Homo sapiens: one gene and its partners. The protein of the gene in region 3 interacts with the protein of the main gene of each other region in a biochemical or structural test. Each region holds a gene or a part of one and is shown on either strand. Other genes may lie near its edges.

Region 1 (8,865 bases), on a different chromosome or scaffold from region 3:
GAATTCCAGAGTTTCTGGTGCTGGTCCCTGGAGTGTGGTCTAGAAGGAATGTGAAGTCCATGTAGGCTCCTCTGTCCCTTTGCCCCTGTGTGGAGGGGGCAACCCCAGGAGGGCCAGAGTGGAGGCCTTTTAAAGGCCAGGATCGGCCAGGCATGGTGGTTCAGGCCTGTAATTCCAGCACTTTGGGAGGCCGAGACAGGCGGATGACGAGGTCAGGAGATCGAGACCATCCTGGCTAACACTGTGAAACCCCGTCTCTACTGAGAAAAAAAAAAACAAAAAATTAGCCAGGCATGGTGGCACGTGCCTGTAGTCCCGGCTACTCAGGAGGCTGAGGCAGAAGAATCACTTGAACCCGGGAGGCGGAGGTTGCAGTGAGCTGAGATCGCACCACTGCACTCCAGCCTGGGTGACAGAGTGAGACTCCAAAAACAAAAAACAAAAAACAAAAAACAGGCCAGGACCTGGAGAGAAACTGGGTGTAAAGATGGCTCTGGCCAGGTGTGGTGGCTCACACCTGTAATCCCCACACTTTGGGAGGCTGAGGTGGGAGGATCACTTGAAGCCAGGAGCTCCAGACCAACCTGGGCAACATGGTGAGACCTCATCTCTACCAAAAAAAAGAAAAAAAATTAGCTGGGTGTGGTAGCGGCTGTGGTCAGCTACTCAGGAGGCTGAGGCTAGGGGATCCCTTGAGCCCAGGAGGTTGAGGCTGCAGTGAGCTGTGATTTCGCCACTGCACTCCAGTTCTGGCAGCAGAGTGAGACCCTGTCTCTGAGAAAAAAAAAAAAAAAAAAAAAAGGCTGGCTTTGTCCCTGGGCTGAGAGATGGCTCATACCCAAGGTGCCTCTAGCTTTCTGCATTGCCTTTCTTTCAAGTCTGCCATCCGGGAAGAACCTCCCGTTGTGTGATTTCCTTTTCTGCTGCTGCAAAGCGCGGGGAAGAGGCTACTGGGTGATGAAAATGTACCATCATCAGCCTGAAGTTTGGCAACCCAGCTGGTCACCCTGGGCTCCCCTTTATAGAAGTGGTTATGTCTTAGGCTACCTGAGGCTGAAGAGGCAGGAAGAAGGGTGTGTGTGTGTGTGTGTGTGTGTGTGTGTGTGTGTGCGCGCGCGTGTATTAGAGAAAGCTGGTGTTTGTGTATCTGAATCTGCACCCGCAAGTGTATATCCCTGAGGTGTGAGCATAGAAGGTTGTGTGTGTGTGTGTGTGTGTGGCTTGTGTACGTCTAAATTTCTACCTGTCTCTGGGGAAAAGGCCCCCATAGAATAAGGACTGTGGGTTTTTTTTCTTTTTTTTTACTTTTGAGCTGGAGTTTCGCACTTGTTGCCCAGGCTGGAGTGCAATGGCACGATTTCTGCTCACTGCAACCTCTGCCTCCCGGGTTCAAGCGATTCTCCTGCCTCAGCCTCCTGAGTAGCTGGGATTACAGGTGTGTGCCACCACGCCCAGCTAATTTTTTGTATTTTTAGTAGAGATGGGGTTTCTCTGTGTTGGTCAGGCTGGTCTCGAACTTCCGACCTTGGATGATCCACCCGCCTCGGCCTCCCAAAGTGCTGGGATTACAGGCATGAGCCACTGTGCCCGGCCCTAAGGACTGTGTTTGAATGGAGAACAGAAACTCTTCCATCTCCTTGTATGGCCCAGAGGCCTCGTGGAAGATGAGGGGGGTTGTGAGATAAGGAGAGGACGGTGGCCTGGTGGTCCTGGACACTGGCTGATGGTGTGCACCCTCCCCTAGAAAAGAGCCTCCCTCCCACCAGTCCCTCACTGAACCTCTCTGCGCCAGTTACTTCTGTCTCTGCAGCAGCTTGAGATGGGCCATGTGGTACCCTTATATTCTCTACTCTGAAGCACTAGCAAGCTGCAAGGTTGAGTTACCCATATGTGTTTTTGGCAGCCCATGGACTCTGCTTCCACTGAGCCCTGGGCAAGAGGAAGGAATTGAAACTGCAGGAATAGGAATTGAGGCTGGACATTAGAACAAGGAGACAGGGGCATTCACCATAAGGGAGGCTGCAGGATCTTCTTTCCTGGACATTTGTCAGAGAATTCTTGCCTTTAAAGGTTTGCAGGCAGGGGACTGGATAAGATGACCTTGCGGCCTTTTCTTCAAGTTCAAGCTACAGGGGAGACTGTGGTCACAGAAACCCCCATCCTATCCCTACATACCTCCTTTCACAAGAGACCAAATTGCCTGTGCAGACAGCTGAGTCTAGGAAACATCATTTCTGATTCTATTCTGTATTCTCAGATACAGATGAATCTCAGTGCCTGCCAGGCACATAGTAGGTGCTTAAAGAGAATCCCTTGATCTGGGAGGAGAGACTCAGCTCTAATCCCAGTCTTTGCCGCTGCTGTGGTGGTGCTTCCACCAGTCCCAGCCTGTGTGTTTAGCTCTGGGGCTGGTGTTATGCAACATGTTCCATGCTAAGACACGCAGGGGGCATTCTGGGGAGACACACACACACACACACACACACACACACACACACGGTTTATTCTGAAACCTTATTTCTGCTCCTCCACCCACATGGGCTCCTCCACCCCTCTCTGCAGTCAACCAGCCCTACCCTGCCTCTTTGCTGAGGTCAGGAGAAATAGGAAGGAGTCAGGCCAGGCTTGGAGCTGGGACGTATGTGTGTGTGCATGTGTGGAGGTGGGAGGTGGGCAGAAGGGGGAAGAAATGAAACCCTGGCAGCTGCAGCAGTCCAGGATTGTGAGCCCATTCCTTCCCCAGCTGTGGCCTGGCTACAGCTCTATGTGACAGGGTGACAAGCAGGTGGATGGGGCAGGGGTAAGGCAGGGATAAAGATAGGGAGGTAAGCTGGAGGATGGAGAGTTGAGGAAACAGGCAAAGGGCGGTGGCCCTGGTTATGGGATGGCCACTAGTTCAGGGATGTCCGTATCTCCCTGGCCCTGCTTTTGGATGGCGCAACTTCAGAAGGGAGAATGTTCAGCTACCATTCTTTTCTCTGGTGGGGAAAGTGGTCAAGGTTGCTGCTAAGGTACCTTCATCCAGCCCATCCTGTGTGCTAGCTTTGGGGCTGTAGAGCTTTGTTGATGGGGGACCCTTTTCTAAACCACCACTCCTCCAAAACCCACCCACACACGCTGCTTCTGCTTATCCTTCTATGAGCTCTTTGAAGGTTGGGATCATTTTTATTTCCTGTGTCACCAGGTTTTATTTTCTGTGTTCACCAGTGCCTAACATACAGTTGACAATGAATACTCAAGTGTTGAATGAAGGAATGTTTGTAGGGCCCTTGGCACACCATACAGCCACGAGCAGCATTCATGTCATCAACCACAGAAAGGAAGTGCCCTTGTCTTCTTAAGCTGCCTGTGAGAAGTCCTTTTTATTTTTTTGAGACAGAGTCTCACTCTGTCACCCAGGCTGGAGTGCAATGGCATGATCTCAGCTCACTGCAACCTCTGCCTCCCGGGTTCACGCCATTCTCCTGCCTCAGCCTCCCGAGTAGCTGGCATTACAGGTGCCCGCTGCCATGCCTGGCTAATTTCTGTATTTTCAGTAGAGATGGGGTTTCACCATGTCGGCCAGGCTGGTCTCGAACTCCTGACCTCAAGTGATCTGCCCACCTTGGCCTCCCAAATTGCTGGGATTACAGGCATGAGCCACCACGCCTGGCCGAGAAGTTCTCTCTGATCTCTACCCCAGGCTCTCCTATCGCAGAGGGGTGTGCTGCCCGGTTTATTTTTTTCTTTTCTTTTTTTTTTTTTTGTTTGAGATGGAGTCTCGCTCTGTCATGCCCAGGCTGGAGTGCAGTGACATGGTCTCGGCTCACTGCAACCTCCGCCTCCCAGGTTCAAGCAATTCTCCTGCCTCAGTCTCCCAGGCAGCTGGGATTATAGTTGCCCGCCACCACGCTCGGCTAACTTTTTGTATTTTTTGTAGAGATGGGGCTTCACCATATTGGCCAGGCTGGTGTTGAACTCCCGACCTCAGGTGATCCACCCGCCTTTGCCTCCCAAAATGCTGAGATTACAGGAGTGAGCCACTGCGCCTGGCCTGCCCCGTTTCTTTCATGCCAGGGCTGGATTTCCTTCAGATCTGCTGCTTGATGTTTCCAAGCCCACCAAAGCCTCCTGACACCAATACTGTATTTTTGTGCCAATTAATTGTTCTGTCTCTCCTCCAAGTGTTTGTGCCTTTTCTCTGCCCCTTCCCCATTGCCTTGACATTTTATGTCTATGCTCCTCTTCCATGAGGGGAACAGCTGGTTTGATGGTCCTTCAAATGAGAGGAAGGAGGTTCTAGCTTGGGGTGTGCCACTTTGTAGTTTTGTGACTTCTCTGAACTTCGGTTTCTTCATCTTTACAATGAGGGTCGTTTTCTCATCCTAACTATTTTTCAGAGCTGTCACAATAATTAAAAAAAAACATACCGTTAATTTAAATTTCTAACCTTTAGCAGTTTCTGAGTGCTTTCACAAACCTGACCTCATTTAATCCCCACATACTCCAGTGAGGTAGATATGGCTAATGTATCCAGTTTACAGAAGAGGAGAAACAGGGTGAAGTAACTTGCCTAAAATCATACCAAGTGGGAGAAGACCAAACCTGGCCTTCTAATTCTAAATCCCAGGAGTACTCCATCTTTCGGGAAAAAAATCCCACCCCAGCACAAAGCCTATGAAATGCTATACAAATATGTGATTACTACTTTGGGGCAAGGATGAATAAGCCCAAAGAAGCATCATGCCTGACGCTGAGTTGGCTGGCCGGTGAAGGCGTCTGTCCCTTCCCTTGGTATCCCTATGACTTACCTGTTGGACAGGTAGGGGGAAGGGGAGAGTAATGAGTCTCACCTGCTCAGAGCAAGGGTGGGGCAAGACACACCCCATCCCTTCCATTGGTTTTTTCCTTAGTCTTACTGACAGAGCCTTGTCCAATCAGGAGGAAGTAACTTTCTATCTGCCAATAGATGCAATGTTAGGATGAGACCTCAAGTTAGAGTCCATCCCTAGAGCCGACTGGCAGTCCCCGGGGCCAATGGCAAGCGGATAAACAGAGGCGGCCGTGGAAGAGGACTGGAGGCGAGGCTCCGCCCCTCCACGGGACAGTCAGGCGAGATAGCCAGTGAGCTCGCACCAGAGGGTGGGCGTCTCCCCCAGGGGCGGAGCTTCGAGGTGGCGAGGGGCGTGGCTTGGCTGTCAGGTCTCTTCGCCTTTTGTTCGGTTACTGAGTTGCTGCCTTGGCCAGAGTCCGGAGCAGCCGCCGCCCGACCACGCCGAGCTCAGTTCGCTGTCCGCGCCGGCTCCCACCCCGGCCCGACCCCGACCCGGCCCGGTCAGGCCCCATACTCAGGTGCGGGCTATCGGGGGCGCAGGTATCGTTGGGGACAGAGGGGTGGCGAGCGGCCGCGGGGCCGGTCCCAGCCGTCCCTGGGCAGGTGAGGGCCGGTGCCATCGAGCGCCACCCTGCACCGGCGGCAGGGGGCGCGCTGGGGTCCTGGGCGCGGCGACTTGGGGGTCGCGCGGTTCGGGCCGAGCGCGCCTCGGAGCTCCGCGAACCAGAGATCTGAGCAAGGCGGGGAGGGATCCGGACAGGTGCCTCCGGGGTCGCGCCTCCCCCGGGGCCCGCGCAGCTCGCCCGACGCCGCGTCCCTGACTCTCGCCCTGGGCTGGCGGGGGAGACTTTGCTCTGCTTCGACTGCGTCCCAGGGCTCACGCTGCAGTCAGGAATTTACCGTTTGGGGAACTTGCTGCCGCTGGTCTCTTTGGGGCCACCCTCACCCCACCCCACGCGTCATCCTCGCTTTCCCTCCCTCCCTACTCCCCCAGGCCTGGGTGGGGCCCTATTGTTTGCGCCCAGCTTGCCCAACTGTGGGGGCCGAGCGCACATTTTCCCAGCGACTCTGGCCCCACCTGCCGAGCAGGTGAGCGCACGGAGTCCAGAGGCCCTGCCCTCCAGCTCCCAGAGCCTCGTCGATACTACCTGCGGCGCCTCCCTCCACGCCGGTGGGAGCCCGGCTCTGGCTTCTTCAGCGGAGGTGGGATGGAGTGACTGGGGGGTGCAGGGCTCGGCTCAGTGTCCAGCTGGTGTCTGGCACCCGTGGCTCGCCCTGGGGTCTGGGGGGTGGGGTCTGTGCACGGATGAAGAATTCAGGGTCACCTGGCCCAGTTTCCAGTAGCTGTGGCTGCCAGAGTGTTGGTAGGGGAACAGGACCCGTCTTCTCTAACCTCTTATTGTTGGAAAAAATCACCCAAAACAAACTTTGCAGGAGGAAGTATTCACAGCAGCTTTATCTGGGGGTTTTCCCGTCTCCTTGCCCAAAACTTCCTTTAGGCTTAGGGGGTCCTTCCTGGTGCAAAACCCCTTCCCCCAGCCGGCCCCTGGCTGAACCTGGGCCGGTGCCTGGGCTCCGACCCTGTCTTCCCTGCCCCCACATTCATCCTGTTCGCTGGGCCCCAGGGGCCTGAGGTAGGGGCCGGGGTGGGGGGTGGAAAGTGCTGAGAGGGGAAGCAGCTTCTTCCTTCTCTTCCTGCCTCCTGGGACCACCACACCCCCTCAGACAAGGCCTGCGTAAGTGGTTGTCTCTCAAGCTCTGCCCCCTCCCCAGGAATGGGGGTGGGGCAGGGCTGGGCCAAACTGAGGAAGGTGGGGGGAGTGGTTGTTCTTGTCTTTTTTTTTTTGCCTCTACCCCATCCCCCACATTACTTAGCTGGCTGGTTATTGAGGCAGAAGCGCATGAGGCTGTGGGACTTGCCTTCCATTTGATTTCTGAATTGTGAAGGTGCATGCTTTCTGGAGGCCTGCACAGACCTTTCCCACCCGCTTTCCTGAAAGAATTTGACAGGGAAAGTGAGACCGCAGGAAGGCTTTTTGGGGGAAGGTTTCTTCAATGCTAGACTCTCTCAGGCAGAGCTGCATCGGGCCCCCTGCCTTCCCTGCTCCCAATTTCCTGAGACCGCCCCCCCCCACCCAGAATTGGGGATCTTGATCAGGGTTTGTACCCCGGTTTAAAAAAAAAATCTGAAATGTGGTCTTTTTGCAGGATTTGGAGCCCAGCCTCGTTGGGGAACAGAGAGAGAATACAACAGTTGGGTTCTCTCTCAGTCCTGGGGGTGGGAGAAAGATTGTGGGGGGCGGGGATCGAGAGTGCTTGGAGGGGAAGAGTCTACCACCTCTTTCTTTGTTGTAGATGGGGGAGTGAGGCTGGGGGCCCAGACTCAGCCCCTTTATCCTGGGTGGGGATCACGCTCAGCCCTGTGCTAGGGGGAAGTCAGTGTGGGAACTCAGATCCTTTTCTGCCGGGGGATGGGATTCTGCACCTCTGGGGAGCAACAGGAGCAGGGAGTTTGGGCAAAAATAACCTGCTTTCCCTCTTCTCTGTGCCAAGGTGGAGGAGGGGAGGGCATTGTAATTATGTTGGCTACATGATTAGTTTAGCTAATCTGGTTTGTGGCTGTGATGAAAAGATAATACTGAGGAAGTACTGCTAGGAGGTGCTTGGTGAAAACTGGCCACTGACTGGACTGGGGGATGCGGGGGAGGAGGAGAAGGTAGGACCCAGTTAGTCATTTCTTGCTAGATCAAGCCCCAGCTTGGGTGACTTGAGCCCTCCCACCCCCACTCCACCCCTCCCTTGCACCCTGGCTCCACCCCATTCCCTCTGGAGCCTCTGTTTGGGCTGCCAGGGCCGAGGCTTTGAGAATGCAGTGCATAGGAACGAAAAAGGTCGGGCTAGGGCTGCCAACCTTTTTCCCATCCTGGAGCCACCTTAGAGTGAGATGGGTCAATTGACTAGTCTACAGAAGGACTGTTTATTTGGAGAGATGGGACAGTGGGGCAGTTCTGAGCACAGGGCTTTGGGCTTGAACTGAGCTGGGTTTGAGACCCAGCTCTGTCTCTCATTACCTGAGCCTCAGTGACCTCTTTGGCAAAATGGGAATACTAATACCTATCTACCCAGTAAGTACTTGACAAACGGTAACTCAAGATCAAGGTAAGACTTTACAGAAACCAAGCACTTTCTTTTTTTTTTTTTTTTTTTTTTTTGAGATGGAGTCTCGCTCTGTCACCCAGGCTCACTGCAACCTCCGCCTCCTGGGTTCAAGTGATTCTCCTGCCTCAGCCTCCTGAGTAGCCAGGATTACAGGCGTGTGCCACCACCCCCGGCTGATTTTTGTATTTTTAGTAGAGACAGGGTTTCACCATGTTGCGCAGGCTGGTCTTGATCTCCTGACCTCGTGATTCGCCCGCCCCGGCCTCCCAAAGTGCTGGGATTACAGGCGTGAGCCACCTCACCTGGCCCAAACCAAGCACTTTCATTAACTATTTTTACTTAATCCTTATGGCTGGCCAGGCTGGATGGCTCAGACCTGCAATCCCAGCACGTTAGGAGGCCCAGAAGGGTGGACTGCTTGATTGAGCCCAGGAGTTCCAGACCAGCCTGGGCAACATGGAGAAACCCTGTCTCTACAAAAAAATAGAAAAATTAGCCGGGCGTGGTGGTGCATGCCTGTGGTCCCAGCTACTGGGAATGTTGAGGTGGGAGGATTACCTGAGCCCAGGGAAGTCAAGGCTGCAGTGAGCTGTGTCACTGTATTCCAGCCTGGGCAACAGAGTGAGTCCCTGACTCAAAAAAAAAAAAAAAACAAAAAAAACGCGTATCATTATTCGCATTCTACAGAGGAGGAAATTGAAACTCAAGGAACTTAAGTAATTTCCCCAATGTTGTACAGCGAGACCCAAGCAGCACCAAGACTGACGTTTGGGTCCTCTGATTCCAAGCCCAGAACCCATCCTGCTGTATTGCCCCATGCAGCTCTGGAAAGGATTTTTTTTTTTTTTTTGAGATGGAGTCACGCTCTGCCACCCAGGCTGGAGTGCAGTGGC
Region 2 (7,338 bases), on a different chromosome or scaffold from region 3:
TGAGCTGTGATTGTGCTACTGCATTCCAGCCTGGGCAACAGAGCAAGACCCTGTCTCAAAAAATACATGATTAAAATGAAAAAAGACTTTTCTAATGAAATAAACAGTGATGTTAACGAATGTGATTTCAAAATATTGTGTAATGCTATGTGTTAGCATTTTGAATATCTGGATAACTTGAAGCAGTATTTTGCAAGTGACAAATACATATGTCAAAATCGTACATAGGTAATTGATCCGTTAAAAGTGCAAGATGGACCAATGGATTTTAACTAAACAGAATATGAAGTGATTGTTAATTATAGATTCCACATTACTGTCAACCTTTAAGAAACTACTACTAATTAGTATACTATTAAAGAAGAATAACCACAATTATCTGAAAAGACTATTAAAATCATCCTCTTTTCCAACTTTTTATCTGTGTGAGGCTGGATTTTCTTGATATACATTAACTACAATAACATATCACAAAAGATTGAATGCAGAAGCAGGTATGAGAATCTAAGCCAAATTTCAAAGAGATATACAAAAATGAAAAGGATGTTATTAAAGATTATTTATGATAACATGTAAGAAGTTTACCATTAAGTGAAATAGATACTTTAAACTTGTCAGTATGGTAACAATTAATACATAAAACTCACACCAATGAAGGTTCTTTAGATCCTTATAATTTTTAAGACTGTAAAACGGCCTTGAGACCAAATAATTTGAAAACTGCTAGTTTAGATGGAATTGTTTTTTGATTTAAGAGTCTGTAGGGGCCAGGTGTGATGGCTCACACCTGTAATCCCAGTACTTTGGGAGACTGAGGTGGGAGAATCACTTGAGCCCAGGAGTTTCAGACCAGCCTGAGCAACATAGTGAGACCTCATCTCTACAAAAAGCTTAAAAATTATCCAGGCATTGTGATGCACATAGTTGGTGCTAAGTAGAAGTGTGAATGAAGGGAAGGAAGGAGGACCAGAGAGCAATTTTCATGATGTGTACAGATTTTGAAGAATTGTTTTTGACATGGATAACTTTCTGACTTCATACAGATAAGAAACCTGATCGGGAAGAAATTCAGATGAGCAATATGGGATCAAACACAAAATCACTAGGTAGGTGATTAATTCCTGCCTAAGGATGTGGAGTAATATTTCACTGGCTAAGGAGAGCTGTCTAGCTCTATAGTTTTTTTTCTAATACCCTTACCATTTACCATCCTGGGAGAGCATTGGCTGATCATTTCCATTTTGAAGGATGTAAGGAAATTTAATAAAATCTGATCCGTCTACTTTTTCTACATTCCTACATGCTCAAAGGTTTTCAGAAATCTTTCTATGCCTCTCCTATTACTACACATTCAAGTTTGTAGCCCATTATATTCCTACCCCAGTCTCCTTCTCTGGAGTGAATGGATACATCTGTTTCTGCCCAACTATTCTGCTTGCTATTCTATCTATTCACTCTATAGTTTGATTCTGCTCATGTAATACCTCTTACTGGTATGTCCTTCCCTTTTGTCTTTCTAAATTCTCTTTATCTCCAAAGGCTTAACTCAAGTCCTGTTTTCCCTTGTCAGGTCCTTCCTAACGATTGCAGCATATTTCACTCGCTCTTCTTTTAATTCCCATAACCTTTTCAGACAAACCTCTTGTTTAGCTTTATTATGTCATATTCTGGGTATTTTATACATATTGTCTTCCATCTTAGATTCAAGTTCTTTTTTTGAGACAGAGTCTCACTCGTTCACCTGGGCTGGAGTGCAGTGGCGTGATTCTCATACCTCAGCCTCCCGAGTAGCTGGGACTACAAGTGTACACCATCACACCTGGCTTATTCTTATATTTTTAGTAGAGATGGGGTTTCACCATGTTGGCTAGGCTGATCTTGAACTCCTGGCCTTAAGTGATCTGCCCGTCTCAGCTTCCCAAAGTGCTGGGATTACAGGCATGAGCCACCACGGTCAGCCAGATTCAAGTTCTTTAAGTCGGGGACCATCAGACTTTAATGCCTTTGTGGAGCATTTGACAAGCTCAGTTCCCAACAGTGATGCCTAATTACACCTATCTGTTTGATATACGTTTTACACTAGAGGGGAATGTCATATTTCTGTGTACTTTTTTTTTTTTAACCAGATAACAACTATTCCACACCAAATGAGAGAGGAGACCACAATAGAACACTGGATCGATCGGGGGATCTAGGCGACATGGAGCCATTGAAGGGAACAACACCCTTGATGGTAAATTCTCTTTATATACTGCTATCTGTCTAAGGCTAGTTCTATTTTGAAGCCTATGTGTTTTGTGAAACACAAAAAAAAGTACAGAGAAAGATCGCATCCTTTTCTGGTAGGGGTTTTCAGGAAAAAGTAAGAGTTCTGACTCATGTTGGGATTTCTTGGGCCGTTATTCTGCAGTGGTCAAAATGGGGGAAGCATGTCTGTAAAAGTGTTACTGATATGACTAACACTAACTGATCTACTTTCAAACATTACCTTTTTCCTCTCCCTCCCTGTTTATGAATGTTTTGCCCTTCTCTTACTATTATATCTTGTTTTGTTTGAGTTTACAAATTTTCAGAGTTTCCCTAGCTCTGGCACACACTCATGAGGTTCCTGTCTCTACTCATACTAACAAATTGCATGTGTTCACAGCAGGACGAGGGGCAGGAATCTCTGGAGGAAGAGTTGGATGTGTTGGTTTTGGATGATGAGGGGGGCCAAGTGTCTTACCCCTCCATGGTATGTCCTTCAGTCACCCCCAAGATTGTTCTTGAGGAAGGAGGCTCCTGAGTGCCAGCAACTTGTCAATCACGCTAATCTGATCAGGCCAGAGACTAAGTAGTCTCAGCCACATGGGGCTCGAGGGGTTCTGCTTTTGTGATTATTACCTCTTACGAGTCTGGGACATGCAGCTGGTGATCTGATTCTCCGTTATGTGCTGCTTTCCTTTCTCCAGATTTGCTCAACTTTTTTGGGGGGGGTCTCCTTAATCCCAACCCCATTAACATTCTCTCTTTCTCTTTTTTCTCCACAGCAGAAGATTTAGCACCACTATCTCCGTTCCATCTGGGCTTATATGTACTTTTATTTTTTGGTGGTGAAATTGACTGATGATTTTCCTTTTTCTTCGCTGGACTATTGTGCCAACTGCCAGGCTGCCTCCTGCCCTTACAGCCCTAAGTGGCTGCCTTCTTTCCATCAACTCCCAACTTCTTCCTGTGAAGTTTAATTGTCTCAACGCCTCCCCCTCCCCCATTCCCTCCATTTTTCTCCCAAGAAACCTGACTCAATTATTTGCATATTTTGAGAAACTGCTGCAGATTAGTTCTTTTTGCCAGTTTTCCCTGGAACTCCTGGCCTTTTGTGGAGGGGAGGGATGGAGAGAATAGGAATCTTCACTAGAAGCCGTGGGAAGAATTGGAAGTTACATGCTGTATATGCAATGTCCAGCAGTCTGATAAACTGACGATTCTTAATCAAGATTTTTTTCCTGATGGGGAAGGGACTTTTATTTTCTTTTAGAGAGGGGAAAGTGTGAGCTCTTCCCTTATTCCTAATGGCTATTTTTGAAGCAAAGAAGGCCAGCAACATTGGCACATGCCACCTGGCAAAGGACCCTTGAGTAAGTGAAGGTCTCCTAAAACTGGGATTAAGAAACCTTGCTCTCCTCATCTCCAAGGCAGGGACCATCAAGAACCTACAGACTCCATCTCTTCTGCAAGCCTCATGCCAACCCTGGGCTATTGCTGCTGCCCCTTAAACACAGGCTGTCCTTAACCCACCTCTCCTGCCCTGTGATATGTCTGCTGAGTTGGCCTGGCCATTTCCAAGAGGCTGTAGAAAGGGGAGAATGTCAAGGAAGACTTTTGGTAGAGAAGGAGCAGAAAGATGTGTTTTTGGGAAGAAGAAGACCTCTAGGAGGAGCTAGTAGGAATGTACATGAAGCAATTAGTCTGAAACTGGCTTCCCCACTCCCCCGTTTCTCCTTTTCCTATCCTTATAGGCCTGTCCCTTGCCTCTGCCCTGGATTGGTTGGCAAACTAAAGGACTTGATGTACATAACTCCTGTCCCTTTTCCCTTACAAGGTGGGGATTGCCCCTGGCTTTGCCTCTTCTTTGTGCCTTTGGCCTGGGGTGCATCTCCTCCCGCCCTTCCATGTGCCTTTCTTTGCCTCTGCAGTCTCATTTCTCATAATTTTGCAAATTATATTTTGTTGCTTTCTTACCTACTATTGGCCCTAAATAGCAGAAAGAAGAGAAGTGACCGAGAGAACCTCAGATTCTTCATTGAGGATTGGTATAGCCATGATTTCAGTCATAGCAAGCTTTTGCTCAACAGCATATGGGTGGGATTTTGCAAAAATCCTATTCTGATGAATCTCAAAGTAAGGCTGGTAAGAGAAGTGAGTGGTGTGACTCTTACTCCTTAGGTGCCCAGAATTTACCATCATCTCTGAAGGAGTTACAGGGAAGTGGTCTCCCCAATTCTCCCCTCCCTCCAGTATTGCCCCCTCTCACTTTAGCATATATTAATTAGCAGGTTGGGCTAGAGAAATCAGCTGCTATGCGGGTTGATTATTATTATTATTTCTAATCCTTTTCCTTATTTGCCTTCTACTCCCCTTAATCTAATCTAAAAGCTCTGTTCCATGCAACTGGAGTTCCTTATCCCTCTCTTCCCCTTCCCTTATATATTGAGGCTATGGGGTAGGAGAAAAGTGCACAACCCACCACCCCCTTTACTCGTGCATTAAAATTTCTTATTTACCCTTTTCCCCCTTCCCATTTCTTCCCACTTTCATCTACCTTTTCTGGCAAAAAGGAGCCTTTTGCTCTCTGTGACCCTAAGAGCACACTGCACAGGGAAAATTGCCCCATCCAGACCTGGCTCCACTCTTGATCTCTCTTGTCCTCTTCTGCTCTTTTCCTGGTGCTCTTTTTTCTCGGTGGGGTGTGGGTAATAGAACAGCCGTGGGCTTTTGGGGACCTTTAACTTTTTTTTCTCTCTTTTGTTTATAAAAAACACTAAACATTCAATTCCAGAGAACCAAAAATCCCACCTTCCCACCGAACACTACTAAGGGGCTTGTGTTCTGCTCCATACCTTTTCTCTTTTCTTTCTGTCTTGTTAATGCTTTTAAAAACAAATGAGTTTTTTATATAAATAAAGTTTTTAAAGTGTGTATGTGGGGGGTCTGTGTCATTTCTTCACTTCAAGCTGTTATTTCTTCCCTGCTTTGCATCTTTGTTACTTCCTTATGTATCAGTGTCCTTTCCAGAGCAACCAGAAGGAGGTTATACCAGGATTTATTTTGAGCTCAGCCCCAACTCTTTATCAAGCAACATTCTTGTTAACTATATGTGAAACATTTTTTCTTCTGAAGATTCTTAAAAATTGAATGTGGCTGAAGTTGAACATGGGAGCTTATTGCTAATTTAGAGATAGGAAACTGAAGCATAAAGAATTAATGACTTACTTTAATTACTGGAATTCTTCTGCAACATTTGACAAAACTAACCTTGAATAAGGCCCACTGTAATACGTAGCTCTCTTAAATATAACACTTAGGACTAGAAGATTAGAAACTACCAATCCCAACTACGTAATAGGAAAATGTAGGATCAAAAGGCCCATGTATATAAGTACTGACCACTGGGCCATAATGTTGCTTCTCAGGCTATATGCAGTCCTTTAGTCAGAAGTCAATAGGCCTATTTATTAATATTTTACAGACCATATTACCTGGATTACCAGGGACTATCTTTGCTGCAGAGATCAAGGGTTAAGATCTATGGGAAGATACTTATTTTTCTGAGGTCCTTATGTCCTGTCATATAATTAAAGACTCAAGAGAATTTATGTGAAATGCTTTCTGTATGCCCAAATCTTTAGATTAAAATTATATAGCTGCTCCTGATGATGGTCCTGTCTTGTTTTATTGAACTAGGACTTGGGTATGAAAACTTTCATGGGCTAGTGAGACCAGGAAATCAACTAGCTTTTAAAGCTTGATTTGTGTCTAACAATTGTAGTGTTAGATTAGAGGTTGAAGTACAAAGCCAAAAAGCTATTAAGAGTTTACTTTCCAAAGAGTTTTGATAGCCCTGCTTGAGATGATTTTTATCTAAATAGAAAAGCCTGGCTGCTTGTCAGCAACACTTTATTTCCCTGTTATGTTCTTATCCTTTGGCATTGAGCTAGATACAAACCCTACTCTTCTCTCTTCCTTCTGGATTGGTCCATTTGTTTATCTCATTCAATAAATATTTGCCAAGCACCTCCTATATGCTAAGCGTTGTGTCAAGGTTAGGTTTAGATTAGAGAGTGAAACAGATGGATCTTTTCTCATAGATTGCAATCCATGAGAATCCTCTATAGCTAAGATCTATGATCAGACGAGATCGTGTGCGTTCAGGGTGATATGGCCATAGACAAGATCTATGATCTTAAAAACACTTCTCTCTGTGCCATATCTAAATACAATGAGATGTTACACAGAATGATGTGTAAAGGCCCTATCTCACAAGTTTCTTGACACTGATGTACTTTGTGACAGAGGTCAAAGCTGGGACCTCACTTGGCCACTTTTTTTTTTTTAGACAGAGTCTTGCTCTGTCACTCAGGGGCACAATCTCGGCTCACTGCAACCTCAGCCTCCTGGGTTCAAGCGATTCTTCTGCCTCAGCCTCCCGAGTAGCTGGGATTACAGGTGTGTACCACCACGCCTGGCTAATTTTGTATTTTTAGTAGAGACAGGATTTCACCATGTTGGCCAGGCTGGTCTCAAACTCCTGACCTCAAGTGATCCACCCTTCTTGGCCTCCCAAAGTGCTGGCATTACAGGTGTGAGGCACTGCGCATGGCCGGCCACTTGTTTTTCTTGCTGAACTAATTTTCTTTGCTACAAACTGGAATCACCTCACCCAGGAAGAACTAAGAACCAGTCTTTCCATATCATTTTTTTCTCATTTTGTCTATTTTTATATCTGAAGCAAAGGTTCTTAATATTTTCATAGATGGAATTGACTAGACCTAGCCCTGTATATCTGAGCAAGTTACATAAGAATTCCCTGTATGCTTGTTGAAAATGCAGAGTCCCATGTTCCATTTCCAAAAATCGATTCAGTAGGTGGGACTGAGGAATCTAAAATCATGGTAAGTCATCCAGGTTATCCTCTTTTTTTTTGTTTTTGTTTTTGTTTTTTTTTTTGAGACGGAATTTCACTCTTGTCACCCGGGCTGGAGTGCAATGCCACGATCTCAGCTCAGTGCAACCTCTGCCTCCCGGATTAAAGCGATTCTCCTGCCTCAGCCTCTTGATGAGCTGGGACTACAGGCACCC
Region 3 (7,166 bases):
CAACTAATTTTCACCCAATGGATTTGGCATCTGTGGATGATTCTTGCTGAAGCAATGATTACTATAATCCTTATTTATTTTTAAAAGCAGACTCCTGCAGACCAGCTCCCCCAAACAATACAGTAGTTCCTAAATGGTGGCAACATGCCACCTCCTCTCCTGTCATGAACATCTGGAGATGCAGGTTGCCCTGTTGACCTGTGGGTGGACTGCACTATTGCCATTTAATGGGAGGTACAGGGAGGCTAACAGAGATCTACTGCTCAGTTATTTACTAGGGTCATGGAAAGGCTCTGAAAGAGAAACTAAGAAATCAAAGGAGGAAAGGGCTCTAAGAAACTGTGGGCTTGGCCTCACTTCTTTGGAAGTGCAAAGCAATGAATTACATCAAGTGGTCATTGTTCCAGGCGTAAGGGCCTCTGGAAACAGACACTAAAGACCTGGTCCCTGAATCTGCCCCAGGAGATGCTTTGAACTATCTATTTCACTACTGCAAGCTTTCAACCCAGCCTGGAAACTGTACAATCCAGGGTTTCATCACTGAACCTAATCCTACATTATTGTCTTTGACTTTTCATCATTCTTTTAAACTTCGATTAAAACCCATCTTGCCAGGCCTTACAGTTTGGAGCATGTAGAAATATCTCTAGATTATGAGGAGTCCATTGGCTACACATAGAAAATGAGAGTTTTTTTGTTTTTTGTTTTTGAGATGGAGTCTCACTCTGTCACCCAGGCTGGAGTGCAGTGACTCGATCTCAGCTCACTGCAACCTCAGCTTTTTGGGTTCAAGTGATTCTCGTGCCTCAGCCTCCCGAGTAGCTGGGATTACAGGTGTGTACCACCATGCCCAGCTAATTTCTTGTGTTTTTAGTGGAGGCAGGGGTTTCACCATGTTGGCCAGACTGGTCTTCAACACCTGGCCTCAAAGTGATCCACCTGCCTAGGCCTCCCTAAGTTTTGGGATTACAGGCATGAGCTGCTATGCCCAACCCAAAATGAGAGTATTTTAAAGCAAGTGTTGTAGTTGGTTGGTTGGCATGTGGGTTCTCAGTTCTCAGCATCTGTGTGATTTACATTATAGAGGTACCTTCAAGTTTGAAAGGAGAAATACTGATAGTAAGCTACTTAGAACACAATACTATGGGCTGGGTGCGGTGGCTCACGCCTGTAATCCCAGCACTTTAGGAGGCAGGCAGATCACTTGAGGTCAGAAGTTCGAGACCAGCCTGGCCAATGTGGTGAAGCCTTGTCTCTACTAAAAATACAAAAATTAGCCGGGCGTGGTGGCAGGCACCTGTAATCCTGGCTACATGGAAGGCTGAGGCATGAAAATTGCTTGAACCCAAGAGACAGAGGCTGCAGTAGGCAGAGATCACGCCACTGCACGCTAGCCTGGGCGACAAAGTGAGACTCCAAACTCAAAAAAACACAATAGTATGTATGCAAAGTAAAATTGCATTTCTACCATACTACAAGAGCTCAAAGAGAGGCAGCACATCAGACCAAGAACGGCTGTCTGTGAAGGGAAGGGAACAGGTGAAAGGAGCACAGATAAAGGGAATAAAAAATAAATTAAGAGAATGGTCTTGTACAGACAAATGACAAAATGCCATGAAGTACATATTATTGATTTACATATAAAATGATATAAAATAACCAGTTGCTGCAAGTCAGTTGAAAAATCCTCACACTTACGTTATTTTCTGTTCCATAAATGTGTCTGGCTCCTGGGCAGTGTAGGATGTGATTTCCTGGCCCACGCCAAAGTCCTCGGACACTTCCACTCTCTTTTCAGGAGGCACAAAGATGGGGGCTTCATTCACATCCAGCACATCCACGGTGACGGTGGCTGTGGAGGTGGTGAGAGAGACCTCAAAAGGTACCACATTCGTCACTGCTACGTGTAGAATGTACTGCTGCTTGGCCTCAAAATCCAAGCCCTAGAGAGCAGAAACAATGAAGTTAAAAACAAAACGAAACATTTTGTGTTAGTAAAAATAAAATTAAATCCTTAACTGTTGCTTTTGGTAATATATTAGGTTGGTGCAAAAGTAACTGTGGTTTCTGCCATGACTTTCAATGGCAGAAACCACAATTACTTACCATGGCTTCTCAAATCTGCTCACCTACTCAAGAGGAAGGCAAAGCTGGGGCTATTCTAGGGATCCAGTCACTTCAACAAGCAATTCACTCAAATTCTTAGTTTTCAAGTTTCTTTCCTTATTTTATTTTTTTCTGAGACAGAATTTTTGCTCTTGTCACCCAGGCTGGAATGCAATGGCTCACTGCAACCTCCACCTCCTGGGTTCAAGCAATTCTCCTGCCTCAGCCTCCCTAGTAGCTGGGATTACAGGAGCCCGCCACCACACCTGGCTAATTTTTTGTATTTTTAGTAGAGACGACGTTTCACCATGTTGGCCAGGCTGGTCTCGAACTCCTGACCTCAGGTGATCCACCCGCCTTGGCCTCCCAAAGTGTTGGGATTACAGACATCAGCAACTGCACCCGGCCATCTTTTTTTTTTTTTTTTTTTAAGAGATGGAGTCTCATTCTATTGCCCAGGTTGGAGTACAGTGGCATGATCATAGCTGAGTGCAGCTTCAACCCCCTGGGCTCAAGTGATTCTCCCACCTCAGCCTCCCAAGTAGTTGGGCCCACCGCCATACACTACTGCGCTTGGCTAGTTTTCAAGTTTCTAGGACATTTTTCAAAAACAACCATATCTGCCCCACTTCTAAAATAAACCAGCACAAGAGCAGAGACCAGTAAATCATTTTCTCTGTCACCGCAAAATGGAAAGAGCTGAGGGAAGGAGAATGTTTCTGGGAAAGAGCCTATTAAAGCAGATAGTACTTCTTTTTCAATTTCAGGATCCTGTGTAACAGCTTCTTGATTTCTTTTTTTTTTCAGACAGAGTCTCACTCTGTTGCCCAGGCCAGGGTGCAGTAGCACGATCTTGGCTCACTACAACCTCTGTCTTCCAGGCTCAAGCGATTCTCCTGCTTCAGCCTCCCAAGCAGCAGGGATTACAAGTGTGCACCACCACGCCCAGTTAATTTTTGTATTTTTGGTAGAGACAGGTTTTCACCATGTTGGCCAGGCTGGTCCCAAACTCCCGACCTCAGGTGATCTGCCCGCCTCGGCCTCCCAAAGTGCTGGGATTGCAGGCATGAGCCACCATGAGCCACCAAGAAGCCTTAGCTTCTTGATTTCCTTTTTTTGAGACGAAGTCTCACTCTGTTGCCGGGCTGGAGTGCAGTGGCACGATCCTGGCTCACTGCAACCTCCCTCTCCTAGGTTCAAGCGATTCTCCTGCCTCAGCCTCCCTAGTAGCTGGGACTATAGGTGCACACCACCATGCCCAGCTAATTTTTGTATTTTTAGTAGAGATGGGGTTTCACCATGTTGGTCAGGATGATCTCGATCTCTTGACCTTGTGATCTGCCCGCCTTGGCCTCCCAAAGTGCTATGATTACAGGCGTGAGCCACCACGCCCGGCCTCCTTTTCCCCGCCCACCCCTGGAGACTGAGTCTTGCTCTGTCACCCAGAGCTGGAGTGCAATGGCACGATCTTGGCTCACTGCAACCTCCACCTCCCAGGTTCAAGCAATTCTCCTGCCTCAGCCTCCCTAGTAGCTGAGATTACAGGCACGTGCCACCATGCCTGGCTAATTTTTGTATTTTTAGCAGAGACTCAAACTCCTGACCTCGTGATCTGCCTGCCTCAGCGTCCCTAAGTGCTGGGATTACAGGCGTGAGCCACCACACACAGCACAGTTTCTTGATTTCTTACATGAGCAGGAAGAGCCACTGCAAATCCCACATGGTCCACTACAATCTGGGAAAGTCACCCTGTCCCCCTGCCAAAGCGAATCTACTTCTAAGAAGATACCAGGGGACAAGGGTATGAACAGCTGTGAGGATGCCAGTTTCTGCATCTTGCCAGGTACCATACAAACCTTTGCTGTTTTCAAAATGCCATCGTTGTTCACTGGATTTGTGGTGACGACAAATTGTCCACCATCATCATTCAATATGGTGTATACAGCCTCCCACGCTGGGGTATTGGGGGCATCAGCATCAGTCACTTTCAGTGTGGTGATTACGACGTTAGCCTCGTTCTCAGGCACCTGACCCTTGTACTGCAGAGCAAAGAGATGTGTCATTTACAAAGTACCAAGACTGCTAGCAGAGCTGAGTCTCAGGGGGCTAAAGGATTCCTCTTTTTTTGTTGTTCTTTTGAGATAAGATCTCACTGTCACCAGGCTGGAGTGTATTTGAGCGATCATGGCTCACTGTAGCCTCAACCTCCTGGGCTCAAGCAATCCTCCCACCTCAGCCTCCAGAGTAGCTGGGACCACAGGCATGCACCACCACACCTGGCTAACTGAAAGCAAGCTTCAAGGAGAAGATGTGACAAGGAGAGGCCAGGCAATGGGCGCACTGGGGTGCAATGGTACAATCTCGGCTCACTGCAGCCTCCGCCTCCTGGGTTCAAGCAACTCTCATGCCTCAGATGCCCGAGTAGCTGGGATTACAAGCATGCACCACCACGCCCAGCTAATTTTTGTATTTTTAGTGGAGATGGAGTTTCGCCACGTTGGCCAGGCTGGTCTCAAACTCCATCCTCAAGGGATCCACCAGCCTTGGCCTCTCAACTTGCTAGATTACAGGTGTGAGCCACCACGCCTGGCCATTATACAGGATGATTTAAACTTACCCTACTTGGTTCTCAATACCTTCTCCTTGAATGCATGTAATATCCTTGGCATACAATAATTCTCATAAGATGTCTTCCTGGCTATACCAGAAACACCATGAGAATGGAATCTTTGTGTGTGATGGTCTCTCCAGTGTCTAACACAGTGCCTAATATAAACTTAGAAAATATTTGTTCAATAAAGAAATGAAACCAGGTAATATTTGCTATAAAAATGTACCATGAGACTATGAAATCAGTAGGTGCTTTTTGCAACTTCACAATCTTGCACCAATTGGCCCCAGGCCAAGGGTGGAAAAAAGATACTAAAAGACAACTGCCATCTCAAGATGCTTGCTTTTAAGTTTAAAGTTAACATTCTCTAGTCTGGAGAGAGTTTTCAAAGACTTCGCCCATGAGCAGTGGTGACACTTAGTTCATGAACAACAAAAGACCTTTCTTTGGAAACCCTCTAAGGAGTTATAGAATTACCGTGGTGGGATTGAAGATCGGAGGATTATCGTTGGTGTCAGTGACTGTGATCACAGCTGTTGCTGTTGTGCTTAACCCCTCACCTTGAAGGTCAGCAGCTTGAACCACCAGGGTATACGTAGGGAAACTCTGCAGAGAGATCGACACAACCAAGTCAGGACCAGGAACACTAGCCACCTTTGGCCTAGCCCAGCCCAACACATGGAACCAGAATATTTAACCATGTGCTTCATGCCAGCCTGCCTGTCTTCTAGGCACGGAACCTCTGGGCACAAGCTTAGATGCAAAGCTTAGACCATCACTGTATTAACTGACAACTGGCCTAGCAGGATTTTGCTTTGTCCACGGGATTGAGCTAATACACATTTGTCCTCCACACCCTCTGGATCCTCCTGACCCCTGACCTCTCGGTCCAGCCCAGTGGTGACCACACTGATGACTCCTGTGTTCCTGTTAATGGTGAACATATTTTTGTCAGGGAGCTCAGGATCTTGGCTGAGGATGGTGTAAGCGATGGCGGCATTGTAGGTGTTCACATCATCGTCCGCGTCTGTGGCTGTGACCTCCATCACAGAGGTTCCTGGAAGAGTTCAAGGAGATGAAGGTTTAGACAAGCTGCACTTTGGGACTGGGTCAATACTGCTTAATCCAATTCTGCCCTGAGGGATAAAGGAGGGGACATGGGGGTGGTACCGTGTCAGAGTTCCCTAATTCCTAGAATTCTTACCAAAGTGCTAGGGGAGAAAGAAAGCTCAAACTATCAACTTATTATCCAGGTATAAATACACAAATGGTAATAAAGAAAAGAAAGGGAATGATTACCACAAAAGTCAGGGTGTGGTTATCTTTTTTTTTTTTTTTTTTTTTGAGACGGAGTTTTGCTCCTGTTGCCCAGGCTGGAATGCAATGGCGTGATTCGGCTCACCACAATCTCTGTCTCCCGGGTTCAAGCAATTCTCCTGCTTCAGCCTCCCAAGTATCTGGAATTATAGGCATGCGTCGCCACGCCCAGCTAATTTTCTATTTTTAGTAGAGACAGGGTTTCTCCATGTTGGTCAGGCTGGTCTCAAACTCCTGACCTCAAGTGATTTGCCCACCTTGGCCTCCCAAAGTGCTGGGGTTACAGGTGTGAACCACCACACCCAGCCTAGGGTGTGGTTATCTTTATGGAGGAGAGAAAAGAATGTGACCAAGGGGGATTGTTTAGGGCTTTAAGGTACTGGTAAAGATCTGTTCCTTAATTAGGAAGGTTGTTCTTAGCCAGGTATAGTAGCTCATGCCTATAATCTTAGCAGCTTGTGGGGCTGAGGTGGGAGGATTGCTTGGGCCCGGGAGTTTGAAAGTAGCCTGGACAACAAAGCAAGACCCTGTCTCTGAAAAAAAAATTTTTTTTTTTTTGAGACGGAGTCTGGATCTGTCACCCAGGCTGGAGTGCAGTGGCGTGATCTCAGCTTACTGCAACCCCCGCCTCCCGGGTTCAAGCAATTCTCCTGCCTCAGCCTCCCAAGTAGCTGGGATTACAGGCCCCCGCCACCACGACCGGCTAATTTTTTTGTATTTTTAATAGAGACGAGGTTTCACCATGTTGGTCAGGCTGGTCTTGAACTCCTGAGCACAGGTGACCCATCCACCTTGGCCTCCCAAAGTGCTGGGATTACAGGCATGAGCCACCATGCCCAGCCTAAAAAAAAAAAAAATTAATAATAAAAAAGGGAAGATTGTTCTTAAACTCTCCCTATTTTATATGTTTCCACAGGTAGACTGTTACACACATGCATATAACACAACAATGGCTTGCCAAGAAGTTCTGTCCGTAGGAAGGATCAGCTTTAGTTACACAACCTTTGGGCTTGGACAACACTTTGGGGTCCAAAGAACCTAAGAGTCTTTCTGAGTATTCAGATTCTCATTAGTGGATATACCTGGAAGAGCACCTTCCATGACAGACCCCTTAAAGACCTCCTGGGTGAAT
Region 4 (7,944 bases), on a different chromosome or scaffold from region 3:
ATGTCCTTTGCAGGGACATGGATGAAGCTGTAAACTATCATTCTCAGCAAATTATCACATGGACGGAAAACCAAACACCACACGGTCTCACTCATAGGTGGGAATTGAACCATGAGAACACTTGGACGCAGGGTGGGGAACATCACACACCAGGGCCTGTCAGTGGGGTTGGAGGGCTGAAGGAGGGATAGCATTAGGAGAAACACCTAATGTAAATGACGAGTTGATGGGTGCAGCAAACCAACATGGCACATGCATACCTATGTAACAAACCTACACATTATGCACATGTACCCTAGAACTTAAAGTATAATACAAAAATTTTAAAATTTTAAAAAAAGATCACAGTGAATGGGTACAAAAGTACTATTAGATAGAAGGAATAAGATCTAGTGTTCCGTAGCCTAGATCTGGCCTAGGGTGACTATAGTTAACAATAATTTATTGTATATATTTATATATTTCCTTTTTTTTTTTTTTTTTGAGAAACAGTCCGCTCTGTCGCCCAGGCTGGAATGCAGTGACGCGATCTCAAATCACTGCAACCTCCGCCTCCCAGGTTCAAGTGATTCTCCTGCCTTAGACTCCTGAGTAGCAGGAATTACAGGCTTGTGCCACCATGCCTGGCTAATTTTTGTATATTTTGTAGAGATGGGGTTTCGCCATGTTGGCCAGGCTGGTCTCGAACTCCTAAGCTCAAGCAATCCCTGAGCTCAAGCAATCCTTGAGCTCCTTACAGGCATGAGCCACCATGCTCGGCCTTTTTTAATTTTTTTTTGAGACAAGGTCTTGCTCTGTCACCCCGGTTGGAGTGCAGTAGTGCAATCACAGCTCACTCAGCCTCAACCTCTCAGACTCAAGCGATCCTCCCACCTCAGCCTCCTGAGTAACTAGGACTAGAGGTATACACCACCAATCCCAGCTAATTTTTGTATTTTTTGTAGAGATGGGGTTTGCCAGGTTGCCCGGGCTGATCTCGGACCCCTGGGCTCAAATGATACTCCTGCTTTGGCCTCCCAAAGTGCTGGGATTATAGGCATGAGCCACCATACCCAGTCTGTATATTTCCAAATAACTAAAGGAGTGGAGTTGGAACGTTTCCAACACAAATAAATGATAAATGTTTGAGGAGATAAATATCCCAATTACTCTGATTTGATCATTACACATTGCATGCTTGTATCAAAATATAACATGTACCCCATAAATATGTACAACTATTATGTATGCATAAAAATTAAAAATAAACATGACAAAATGTACTATTAAGAATATTAGTCCAAAAAACAAATAAAAACAACAAAAGAAGAAAAAAAGAAATAATTAAAAAAAATAAAAAGAAGAATATTAGTCTGAGGCCAGGTGCGGTGGCTCTGGTGAACCCAGAGATTAAGGCTGCAGTAAGCCATGTTTGCGCCCCTGCACCCTAGCTGGGTAATAGAGACACTGTCTCAAAACAAAAATAAAACTGGGCAAAGGCTGGGCAAAGTGGCTCATGCCTATAATATTCCCAGTGCGGCCGGGCGTGGTGGCTCATGCCTGTAATCCCAGCACTTTGGGAGGCCAAGGCGGGCAAATCACAAGGTCAGGAGTTTGAGACCAGCCTGGCCAATATTATGAAACCCGGTCTCTACTAAAAATACAAAAATTAGCTGGTGTGGTGGTGGGCGCCTGTAGTGCCAGCTACTCGGGAGGCTGAGGCAGGAGAATCACTTGAACTCGGGAGGCAGAGGTTGCAGTGAGCCGAGATCGAGCCACTGCACTCTAGCCTGGGCGACAGAGCAAGACTCCATCTCAAAAAAAAAAAAAAAAAAAAAAAAAATATATATATATATATATATATATATATATTCCCAGTGCTTTGTGAGGCCAAGAGTTTAAGATGAGCCTTGGAAACATAGTGAGATCCCATCTCTACAAAAAATAAAAAATAAAAAAATTAGCTGGGCACAGTGGCTCACACCTACAGTCCTAGCTACTTGGGAAGCTGAGGCAGAATTGCCCGAGCTCAGGAGTTTGAGGTTACAGTGAGCTATGATCACACCAGTGCACTCCAGCCTGGGTAACATAGTAAGACCCTATCTCAAAAAACAAAACAAAACAAAAACTAGGCAAAATACCTGAACAGATACCTCAACAGAGAAGTTATACAGATTATAATCACAGAAAAAGATACTCAATATCATATGTCATTAGAGAACTGCAAATCAAAAAACAATGAGTTACCACTACACACCTAATAGGATGGCTACAATTTTTTTAAAAACTGACAACACCAAATGCTTGTGAGGATTGCTGATGGGAATGCAAAATGGTAGAGCAGCTTTGGAAGACAGTTTGGCGGTTTCTTACAAAAGTAAACATACTATATGATCCAACAGTCTTGCTCCTTGGTATTCACCCAAATGAGTTTAAAACTTATGTCCACTCAGCCGGGCACAGTGGCTCACGCCTGTAATCCCAGCACTTTGGGAGGCCGAGGAGGGTGGATCACGAGGTCAGGAGATCGAGACCATCCTGGCTAACATGGTGAAACCTCGTCTGTACTAAAAATACAAAAAATTAGCCAGGCCTGGTGGCGGGCGCCTATAGTCCCAGCTACTTGGGAGGCTGAGGCAGGAGAATGGCGTGAACCCGGGAGGCGGAGCTTGCAGTGAGCCTAGATGGCGCCACCGCACTCCAGCCTGGGCAACAAAGCAAGACTCCGTCTCAAAAAACAAACAAACAAACGAAAAACAAAAACAACTTACGTCCACTCAAAAATCTGCACACAGATGTTAGTAGCAGTTATATTCATACCAAAACTTGGACGCAATCAAGATGTCACTTAGTAGGTGACTGAATAAATAAACTAGTACATCCAGACAATGCAATATTATTCAGGGCTAAAATAAAATGAGATCCCAACCCATGAAAAAAACATGGAAGAACCTTAAATGCATATTTGAGTAAAAGAAACCATTCTGACCGCCAGGTGCAGTGGCTCACGCCTTCAATACCAGCACTTTGGGAGGTTGAGGCGGGTGGACATTATACGTCATTATATATTTGTCAAAACCCGTAGAAGACACAACACCTAGAGTGAACCTTAATGTAAACTATGGACTTTGGGTAATACTGTGGTGTCAATGTAGGTTAACAGATTATAATTAAAGTACAACTTTAATGTGGGGTGTCAATAGTGGGGAAGGCAGGTGAAATGCTCTATACTTTCTGCTAAGTTTTGCTGCGAACCTAAAACTGCTCTAAAAAATAAAGCATATAAAAGGAAAAATTTGGCCGGGCGTGGTGGCTCACGCCTGTAATCGCAGCACTTTGGGAGGCCGAGGCGGGCGGATCACCAAGTCAGGAGATCGAGACCATCCTGGCTAACATGGTGAAACCCCGTCTCTACCAAAAATACAAAAAATTAGCCGGCCGTTGTGGCGGGCGCCTGCCGTCCCAGCTACTCGGGAGGCTGAGGCAGGAGAATGGAGTGAACCCTGGAGGTGGAGGTTGCAGTGAGTCGAGATCGCACCACTGCACTCCAGCCTGGGCGACAGATCGAGACTCCGTCTCAAAAAAAAGTAAAAAAAAAAATTTTTAAACTGGAACACAGAGGATAAGTAATCCTGCTTCGCCCCTTGCCTCTCGCCCCTGCATGGGGCGAGGAAGGATTGATCAAACCCAGAAAGACTGAGTGAGAATGGATGTTGAACACAGAACTGAAGGATGAATGGGAGTTACCTGAATAGAACCCAGGGGCTTGAATGCAAGAAGAGGCGGGCATTCCAGGCAGAGGAGAGCAAGGGTAAGGGCCCCACGGGAGGCATTCGAGTAGGAGGGTGAACTATGATGACAGAAGACTCAATAACGATCCAAAGAAACCAAATGATTGGGCGCCTTCTTTCGGATCCGTGACTTCCAGCGCCAGGAGTCTCTATTGGCTCTTATACCGTTGCTCTATGGGATAGCAATGTTTTTGTCCTTCAGCCTCCCCTCCAATTGCTGAGCTGCTGGTGTGTTTTGAGGAGTAGAAGGCAAAAAGAACCCTCTTGTTTTTCTTTGGATCTAGAGAGAATCTGAGCAAATGACAAAGCAAATGGGGTAAAATGTCTTTTTGTTTAGTTTTTCCTGATTTTCCCATGAGAGGCAAATACATGTTAAGGATAGTTGAATCTGAGTAAAGGGCATAGAAATATTCCTTACAAGATTTTTGTTGGCAACTGGTCTAAGTATGAAATTATTTCCAAATAGAAAGCTAAAACAAACAAAACAATTGGCCTTGGGAAACTGGACAATCTTGAAGTAATCAAGTAATATTGTTAAGGGACAATCAGTGTTGTGAAAACAACACGGATACACCCCCTCCCTCCCCCTCAAAAAAAAAAACCCTAAATTCAGTTCCCCCGTTGCTAATGTGTGACCCTGGCAAAGTCATCTAAGTCGCTGAGCTTCAGTTCCTCCAACCCAGAGAGTTGTTGCAACGATCAAATGAAAGAATGTCTATTAAAGCCTTTCATGAACTATATTATTGCTGCTACCGTAGAAATGGAAAGTGTGCAACACTAGATCCAAAACTACTTTTGACACTTCTGAGACTGTGGCCGCGCCTCTGTCACCTTCCAAAGGCCACTAGGCCTTTCCTGAGCTGGCATTGGCAACGCACACTCTTGCCCGGCTAACCTTTCCAGGTGGGCGGCGCACTGGCTTCACTGCTCTCCAGGTGGCCGCTGCAGCTGCCCGAGAGCGCAGGCGCAGAGGCAGACCACGTGAGAGCCTGGCCAGGCCTTCCGGCCTAGCCTCACTGTGGCCCCGCCCCTCTCGAACGCCTTCGCGCGATCGCCCTGGAAACGCATTCTCTGCGACCGGCAGCCGCCAATGGGAAGGGAGTGAGTGCCACGAACAGGCCAATAAGGAGGGAGCAGTGCGGGGTTTAAATCTGAGGCTAGGCTGGCTCTTCTCGGCGTGCTGCGGCGGAACGGCTGTTGGTTTCTGCTGGGTGTAGGTCCTTGGCTGGTCGGGCCTCCGGTGTTCTGCTTCTCCCCGCTGAGCTGCTGCCTGGTGAAGAGGAAGCCATGGCGCTCCGAGTCACCAGGGTGAGCCGCTTCGGACTGCGAACTAACGCGGCCTTCTTAGCTGCTGCCTGCTCTCCCTGCCTCGCCTGCGGGAGCCTCCCGAGCGGGAGAGGGCCGCAGGAGCGATTTGGGGAGGAAGGTGGGAGGGGACTCACCAAGAGAGCGCCGAGGTGGGCCCAGGCCTGGTGAGAGAGTGTGGGGGACGATGGATGGAGGGAGGAAGGTGAGAAAGAGAACTGGACGGATATTGGATAAATGTTTTGGGGAGGTGGAGAGTCGACTGGGAACCTTTTGAAAAAGTGATAGAGGGTCCCTGAGTGGGCCCGCCAGCAACTCTGTAACCCCCTTCCCAGAGAGAAGGTGTCTGCAATTGGAGGCTTTTTCGGTTTCCTTTCAAATGTAAATTCTCGGTATTTTAGGGCTGGCCAGGACTAATCAGGGAATCCCTCAATTGGTAAATGTAGAGGTCGGCGGAAACTGACTTGTCACGGCCGCAGAGTAGACTCTGGGACCCATGTTTTCCCTCGGAACCCATTTTTAGTCGGCTTTCTTTCTGGGAACTTCTCCTTGTGCCCCACCTTAATTAACCCTTGACTTACTCGAGCCTTCGTGGATCAGCTCTTAAAGTGGTCTTGCTTCTTTCAGAACTCGAAAATTAATGCTGAAAATAAGGCGAAGATCAACATGGCAGGCGCAAAGCGCGTTCCTACGGCCCCTGCTGCAACCTCCAAGCCCGGACTGAGGCCAAGAACAGCTCTTGGGGACATTGGTAACAAAGTCAGTGAACAACTGCAGGCCAAAATGCCTATGAAGAAGGTAACTCTCTTCCTGACCTAACTTCTGTAAGAGCCCGCCTTCCAACTGTGGCCTTTGATGCAGAAACATTTCATTCTCTCTGTTTCATCTACAGGAAGCAAAACCTTCAGCTACTGGAAAAGTCATTGATAAAAAACTACCAAAACCTCTTGAAAAGGTACCTATGCTGGTGCCAGTGCCAGTGTCTGAGCCAGTGCCAGAGCCAGAACCTGAGCCAGAACCTGAGCCTGTTAAAGAAGAAAAACTTTCGCCTGAGCCTATTTTGGTAAACTTATTCTTACCATTGTAGAGTCTGTTGATTATTTCTTGTCCCTTATTTCACTGATACATGCAAGAGCATTCAAATGAATAGTAATATTAATACCATTTATTGAGTGCTTAGCATGAGGCAAGCTCTGCCTAACATTTTACATGCATTAACTCACATAATCTTTACACGTACTCTCTGAGGTATTGTCACCTCTACTATTTAAATCATGGCTTTAGAGAGGTTATGTCAGGGTCACACAGGTAAGTGGCCCATATGGGATTCAAGCTCAGGCTGTCTGGCTTCAGAATCTATGCTTTTAATTGTCAACTGTCTTATATTCCTTCGTTAATGATATTAAGTAGTAGCTGTCTGAGCCAAAGGCTTTGTTATCCAACTACAAGCCATCTCTGCAGAATTTATTGGCGTAAACATAGAATGTTCTCTTGAATTTTTTTACTGCTGCATATGGCTACTAAATAATAAGCCTGTAACATTGGAATATGCAAAGGAGTAAAACAGGAAGAAGGCAACTTTTCAGGGAGTGGTTAAGAAGATGAATTAACACTTAGCCTCAAAAATAATAACTTTTTATTAAATATAAGGTATGTAAATGTATTCTATGATAGACCTACCTGTGAAGGAAAGGTAGGTCATGTAGAGGAGGCTGCTTTGATGAAATTGCAATGAACTGTATTCTGAAGCTCTGTTTTTTTAAACTTAGTTAAAACCAGTTGGGAAAATTATCTGAAAAAAACTTGTTGAGACAGAGTCTGGCTCTGTTGCCCAGGCTGGAGTGCAGTGGCGTGATCTTGGCTCACTGCAACCTCTGCCTCCCAGGTTCAAGCAATTTTCCTGCCTCAGCCTCCCTAGTAGCTGGGATTACAGACGCACGCCACCACGCCCAGCTAATTTTCATATTTTTAGTATAGATGGGGTTTCACCATGTTAGTGTACTCCTGACCTCATGATCCGCCCGCCTCGGCCTCCGAAAGTGCTGGGATTACAGGCGTTAGCCACGGCGCCCAGCCAGTTCAGCTTCTTATATCTAAGGATAAGAGATTGAAAGCTATTGCTTTAGTGTTGAATTTCTGGGCATAGCACATGAAATATGTAGCCAGCACAGTCTTTGGGCATATCAAACTACGTGAGGCTTTCTTGGAAGGCCCATACTGATTCTTACCTTTGCTTTCCCACTTAGTAAGAATGCCTTCCCCACCCTGTCTTTCATTTAGCTAATAACCTTTTCATCCTTGAAAACAGCTCAAGCATCAACTCCTGAAGCTTTCCCAAACTTCCCCCATCTCCACCCCCTGTTCCTAGAATCAGTCTTTTTTTTCCCTTTGAGACAGAGTCTCACTCTGTTGCCCAGACTGGAGTGCAGTGGTGCCATCTTGGCTCACCACAACCTCTGCCTCCCGAGTTCAGTGATTCTCCTGCTTCAGCCTCCCAAGTAGCTGGGGCTACAGGCACATGCCACCATGCTTGGCTAATTTTTGTATTTTTAGTAGAGACGGGGTTTCACTATGTTGGCCAGGCTGGTCTCGAACTCTTGATCTCGTGATCCACCCGCCTCAGCCTCCCAAAGTGCTGGGATTACAGGTGTGAGCCACCATGCCCAGCCTTAGTCTTATTTTTGTTTATTTTTTTTTTCCCAAGACAGAGTCTTGCTCTGTCACCCAGGCTGGAGCACAATGGCACGATCTTGGCTCACTGCAACCTCTACCTCCTGGGTTCAAGCAATTCTCTTGCCTCAGCCTCCTGAGTAGCTGGGATTACAGGTGCCAGCCACCACACCCAGCTAATTTTTTTATTATTTTTTTA

Evidence for each region.
Region 1: the proteins of CDH1 (region 3) and JUP form a complex in vitro, tested with the Homo sapiens proteins (2 studies listed by BioGRID).
Region 2: the proteins of CDH1 (region 3) and CTNND1 form a complex in vitro, tested with the Homo sapiens proteins (5 studies listed by BioGRID and IntAct, with this or other methods).
Region 4: of the proteins of CDH1 (region 3) and CCNB1, one has a biochemical effect on the other in vitro, tested with the Homo sapiens proteins (3 studies listed by BioGRID).

The regions. Positions count from the first base shown.
Region 1 is NC_000017.11:41,783,054-41,791,918, reverse strand, and holds the start of JUP (junction plakoglobin), read left to right. Parts: upstream 1-5,207; 5' UTR 5,208-5,331; exon of another isoform or gene 5,332-5,416; intron 5,417-5,811; exon of another isoform or gene 5,812-5,902; intron 5,903-5,942; exon of another isoform or gene 5,943-7,938; intron 7,939-8,865. UniProt on the Homo sapiens protein: Common junctional plaque protein. The membrane-associated plaques are architectural elements in an important strategic position to influence the arrangement and function of both the cytoskeleton and the cells within the tissue.
Region 2 is NC_000011.10:57,813,268-57,820,605, forward strand, and holds the end of CTNND1 (catenin delta-1), read left to right. Parts: intron 1-1,043; coding exon 1,044-1,106; intron 1,107-2,126; coding exon 2,127-2,233; intron 2,234-2,647; coding exon 2,648-2,734; intron 2,735-3,029; coding exon 3,030-3,041; 3' UTR 3,042-6,273; downstream 6,274-7,338. UniProt on the Homo sapiens protein: Key regulator of cell-cell adhesion that associates with and regulates the cell adhesion properties of both C-, E- and N-cadherins, being critical for their surface stability.
Region 3 is NC_000016.10:68,810,292-68,817,457, reverse strand, and holds part of CDH1 (cadherin-1 isoform 1 preproprotein), read right to left. Parts: coding exon 7,117-7,166; intron 5,775-7,116; coding exon 5,599-5,774; intron 5,324-5,598; coding exon 5,195-5,323; intron 4,146-5,194; coding exon 3,963-4,145; exon of another isoform or gene 3,896-3,962; intron 1,944-3,895; coding exon 1,699-1,943; intron 1-1,698.
Region 4 is NC_000005.10:69,162,206-69,170,149, forward strand, and holds the start of CCNB1 (G2/mitotic-specific cyclin-B1), read left to right. Parts: upstream 1-4,944; 5' UTR 4,945-5,057; coding exon 5,058-5,078; intron 5,079-5,702; coding exon 5,703-5,873; intron 5,874-5,967; coding exon 5,968-6,138; intron 6,139-7,944. UniProt on the Homo sapiens protein: Essential for the control of the cell cycle at the G2/M (mitosis) transition.